Regions from separate parts of the Homo sapiens genome. Here region 2 is linked to region 1. A link means that fine-mapping ties the variant in region 1 to the expression of a gene that starts in the linked region. Tissue or cell type: tibial nerve. Region 1 holds a variant in brackets; the other region holds the start of a gene. All regions are shown on one strand. Distances are between the middles of the regions.

Region 1 (2,760 bases):
CACAGCCAGTGAGCAGTCCAAAGCCTACTCCTTCCACTCTCCAGGGGCTACAAATTCAAATGCCCCAAAGAACCAGACGGGAAATGGAAACACGAGATAAGAGAAATCATAGCCTAAATCTGATAATAAACCACAGCTACCACTCAGCCTCACCACTGAAGCTCTGGGGAGTGGTGGGGACTTTGGCAAACAGGAAAGCTCATGCCCTATCCAAAGGCAGTAGCTGGACTTGGCTCCTGCTGCTGGCTGCCTAGTGGGGAGGAGGATGGCCCAGCGTGGGGGCCAGACTTTTCCATTTTTTCCAGGGAAGAAGAGATCTAGATTTTTGATTTTGAGATAGGGTCTTGCTCTGTCCCCCAGGCTAGAGTGCAGTGGTGCGGTCATGGCTCACTGCACCCTTGAACTCCTGGCTTCAAGCGATCCTAACTGTCTCAGCCTCCTCAGTAGCTGGGACTAGAGGTGTGCGCTACTATGCCTGGCTAATTTTTTTATTTTTAGTAGAGATGGGACTCACTATGTTGCCTGGGGTGGTCTTGAACTCCTGAGCTCAGGTGATCCTCCTTCCTCGGCCTCCCAAAGTGCTAGGATTAGAGGCATGAGCCATTGCACCTGGCTAGATATATTTTTAATATAAAATCTTGTTAATTTAAATGTTGGCAAGCTTCGAAAAGTCTTTTAAAAGCTGTATGAGCCCAACAACCATTATCTGGGGGCAAGTTTGACCCACAGGCTTCAAGTGGTTAACTTCTGGACCCCGCCAGGCCCGCCATCCATGTATTTGAAGTCAGGTGTCACACCCTCCTCCCAGTTAAGCAGTCCCCATGTCTTCACAGCCCGAGCTTCAAAGGCAGGAACTGAGCCTTCTTGAATTTTTTTTTTTTTTGAACCCTAGAGCCTTGCACAGTGCCTGGGCCCTGCTGGGTATCAATACATGTCTGTTAAATTAACAGATGATTTCATTCATGACACATGTAGTTCATTCACCACTTTTGAATGCTCCCTGGTTTGTGTCTATCTTTAAGGTTGGTTCCCAAAAGCCTGGGTGTGTGGAGCAGAGTCCATGCTCTAGACTGGAGGGGGCCGGCTCTCGGTACCCATCCCACACTCCTCCTGGGGAGCCTTTCTGTGGGGTAGAGGCCAGAAAGCCAAATACTGCATTTCCCAGACTCCCTTTCTAAAGCTGTCCTCACAGGGTTAACAAGAATTCTCACAGAATATAGTTATAATTCAGCATTAATCACTGCACTTTGACCCACTTCCTTGTAACTGAAATTCACTGGATACTGACCATTAGCATTCCCATTATTCCTTATAGATTTCTGACTGTAGAATCATTAAGGCTTTTGTTTAAGAATTGCTTAAGATGTTTTTCAGATCTTAAATTCCAGCAAAACAACTCACGCTAGCCAGTTTGAAGGCCCCCCACAGAAGAACGGGATCTGCGTGAGAACACAGCTTCTTCATCTCCCTGTCCCGTGACTTCCCCCTGCACTCTTCCACCAATCAATGATCTCCACACATCAGCCTACTCCAAAACCCTTAA[A/G]AACACTGGCCCCAAACTCCTCCGGGAGACAGATTTGAGGTTTCCTTCCATCTCCTCGTTTGGCGGCCCTACAATTAAATCTCTCTCTCTGCTGAAACCCAGGGTCTATGTGTATAGACTTGCCAGCATCGTGCAATGGACCTATTATGGTTACATTTTGGCTTGGGTTCTGGGTGTGATTTAGGTTCAGCCAATCAGATGGCCTCACACGAGCCAGGGAAAGCAGAAGTGAGGTGAGGAGAGGAGGGGGATAGATGTTGGCTGTTTCAGTGCTAAGCACAGGGCATGGAGTTCTTCCATAATGTTCCTGACTGGCTAGCCAGGCTGCGGGGCAGGGTCTTCATAGCGCTGTCCCAGCAGGCATGGAGTCACTCTGAGGCCAACAGCTGGGGCAGTAACTCCCTGATTCCTGGATTGCAGCTAAGGTGACACCTTCCTGATGCTGATACCCCACCTTCCCAATGGTGTCCTAGGCAGCCGCTCTCCTGGCAGGCCCAGGCTAAGTGGCCATGCTTTTGAGGCACCATTCCTAGAGGCCCAGCCCAGAGTCCCCTCCTCATGCTAGCCCAAGGACTTCGTAAGCACCCGACTCCCTGCACTGCATTTGTTTCTGCTTAAAATAGCCTGAGTGGTCTCTGCTGTTAGGCACTGACTGACCCCTGACTGATACAGTGTAGAAGGACAATTACAGCCCTCGAGGCATCAGGAAATCAGGAAATTAGCTATGATTAGGCCCTGTGAAGTGTGGGACCACAAGGAGAGACTGAGGAGGATGCTAATTAATCTTAGGCCAAGTTTTTTAAATTGCACAGACTCTAGGGCCAGCTATTAAGCCACAATCTAAGACACAAATATGGCTCCTGATAATAGAAGGCTCTCAAAACAAGTAGAAGAACTGTCTTAAGTGAGAAGTGAAGAAAGGCCTCATTAGCAACAAATTAATATTCATTGCAGGGGACAAAAGGAGGCCTCCAGGCTGTGTGTCCTCCAGGCCTTGCTCCTCAGCACTGAGATCAGGCAGGGACACCCTTCCCCAGTTAATCAATGACTTGAAGATGCCCCTGTGGGGAGGCAGAAAGATCACTGGGTTTATAACCACAGCCCAGAGTTCAAATCCCAGCCTGCCCTCTTCCTTAGTAGCTATGCAACTCTAAGGAAGTCACCTTACCTCTCTTGGCCTTGATTTCTTCAGTAGCACAATGAGGACATTTTCTGAC
Region 2 (2,500 bases), 85 kb after region 1:
TAATGGACATCTTAAGATTTTCCCAGTTTAAATCTTCGATATGGTAAATATCATAAATATAAATAAACAAAGCTCTTTGAGGTAAGAGCATACAGGGGTCCCAAGGCTTAAAAGGTTTGAGGACTGATGTTCTATAGCAACATTACATTGACCTTTCCAGAAGGCAAAATGGTAAAGCACATTTTATAGTACCTCTAAAGTACAAAGGGAAAAGATATATTTTAAGCATATGACAGAATGTTCAATTAAAAACATTTTCTCCACACTACATTCAGTGAATATAAAAAGAATGTGGATTCCCCAGGAACAAATTCCCGAGAAGTGAGGGACAGTGCTGTAATTAGAAAAATGATCTGGACTCTAGCCCAGACCCTACCAGTCTCTCTAGACTTTAGTCTTCCCATCTGCAAAGTGAGATATCAGAATAGCCTATTTTCCATTTGCTTCCAATTGTCAATACCATGACTCTAATCAGGGATCCCTAAATGGGGGCCCACAAGCTGTCTCTGGCCTTCAGAGTGACTGGCCAACCCTGTTTTTGAGAAGTACCCCAAGAGGACAATCAGCTGGTGCTTGGTGAGCAGCTTTCCTTTCAGGTGAGGAATTGATTTTCAGTTACAGCCTCAATCCGGCTCACTAGACTCTCCTCTGCAGACATCTGCATTTACAACCTCTGGAATAAAGGGACCCTCAAAACCGGTCCAAATCTCAAGCTCCATAATTCAGCTCCAGAGACAGGGTGTCTGGGTTTCTCACTCACTCTGCTACATGCTGGTTGTTTGACTTTGGGCAAGTTCCTTAACACCTCTGAGCCTCAGTTTCATCATCTGTAAAATGGAACAACGCTGAACTCAAAAGGCTGGTATGAAGCTTAGCGAGGTGTTGCCCAAGAGTACTTACAGAGTTCTTGGTACTGGAAAGCACTTTGTTAAAGGGAGCTATTATTATTAACGCCAAGGCACAGAAAGGGAGTATTTCCTAAACTCCCTTCACCCCCCACACCAATTCCCTTTCCCAGCACCTGACGATTGCACTCCCACGATCAAGCTTGTTTTCATATCAACTCCCAAATCCGACAGTTCCACATCCCAACATTCACAAGACCCTCCTCAGACCTCTACTTCTCCTTCCCCACCCTACATCCCTTCACTGAGCTCCCGGCCAGTACCGGTTTCCTTCACGACCACAGCCGAGCAGAATGGTCACAGCACTGACCACTCCCCCAGGCTCTCCTCCGCGTTCCAGACCACTAAGCCTCCCTATCCCTCATTTCGGAGACCCCCTTGGGTCAGGAAGTGGTGGTCCAGGGGTTCATGGCCTAGGATTCTGCCCAAAGCGCGGTCGGGAGGGATGGGAGAATAACAGCCCGACCTCCCGGAGGGGCCCACAGACACTCACCGTCCATCCCTAGAGGCGGCGGTTCCGGGAGCTCGAACCGGAAGCGGCCTCTACACTGTTTGCAGTTCCCCTGGTTACTGCGGGGCCCCGGACCAATGACGGTGGAGCTCCACTTACTGAGCCCGCCCCCGGGGAGTGACGTCATGCCGGCGCGCTGGAACTCCTCCTCCGAACCCTGGGTCTGACCCACCTCCCCGGGCCCCGGATCGTTGTGCGCAGGCGCGATGGACCAAGGCCCTTGGCGGTGCGTTGCGCATGCGCCCCGGGCGCCGCCGACTGAAGTAGCAATGGACGCGCTGGAGTCGTTGTTGGACGAAGTCGCTCTGGAGGGGCTCGATGGCCTGTGTCTGCCAGCGCTGTGGAGCCGGCTGGAGACGCGAGTGCCGCCCTTCCCGCTGCCTTTGGAACCCTGCACGCAGGAGTTTCTCTGGCGGGCCCTCGCCACGCACCCGGGCATCAGCTTCTATGAGGAGCCTCGGGAGCGACCCGACCTACAGCTCCAGGACCGGTCAGCGGGCGGCCTGGCCTGGCGGGCGGGCGGGCGGGCGCAGGGCCCGGGGGCTGATGGAGCTGGGGGCAGGGCGGGGGAATGGAGTGGGGCTGTGCAAGTACCGGAGGCCTGTTGATTGAGTTGGGGCACGGCGGTAAGGCTAATCTGGGGTCCCTCAGGCCTGGCAGGGCCCTGGAGTCCGATGGAGTTGGCGGGGGGAGGGGGAGAATCTAGTGATGTCCCGTTTTGTCCCTGTGTGTGTTTTGGGGTAATGGCGAACAGGATTGGGGATATTCTTCAGGCTTAAAAGAATGTTTCCTTTACATTGGAGGATAGGATTAGAGCAGGAAAGACACTTTAGAGCCAGACTGGAGACTCCTGAGATCAACAGACCCTCATGGTATATTCATTCGGTGCAGATAGCCTAGGGCAACTCGAGATCTGCGTATCAGGACAATTAGCGATAATGCTAAAAGCTGACATTTATCAGGGACTTCATGGGTGAGGTGCTGTTCTTTTTTTTCTTTTTTGAGATAGAGTCTCTCTCTGTGGCCCAGGCTGGAGTGCAGTGGCGCGATCTTGGCTCACTGCAACCTCCGTCCGCCTCCCAGG

Evidence for each region. PIP is the estimated chance that this variant, and not a neighbour inherited with it, causes the effect.
Region 2: KATNIP starts here. The variant in region 1 is fine-mapped to the expression of KATNIP in tibial nerve (GTEx, PIP 0.92).

What each region holds. Positions count from the first base shown.
Region 1 is chr16:27,633,727-27,636,486 of GRCh38, reverse strand. All of the region lies in intron 5 of KATNIP (katanin interacting protein), which reads right to left. Among named protein-coding and RNA genes, the nearest start is that of KATNIP, 85 kb to the right of the region's middle. RefSeq lists an enhancer at 2,148-2,760. The variant A/G (reference allele first, on the strand shown) is at 1,544.
Region 2 is chr16:27,549,076-27,551,575 of GRCh38, reverse strand. It overlaps KATNIP (katanin interacting protein), which reads right to left and starts at 1,432. Exons shown (of 28, transcript NM_015202.5): 1 at 1,399-1,432. The coding sequence starts at 1,405. It overlaps GTF3C1 (general transcription factor IIIC subunit 1), which reads left to right and starts at 1,663. Exons shown (of 37, transcript NM_001520.4): 1 at 1,663-1,906. The coding sequence starts at 1,686. RefSeq lists enhancers at 1,567-1,676, 1,687-1,766.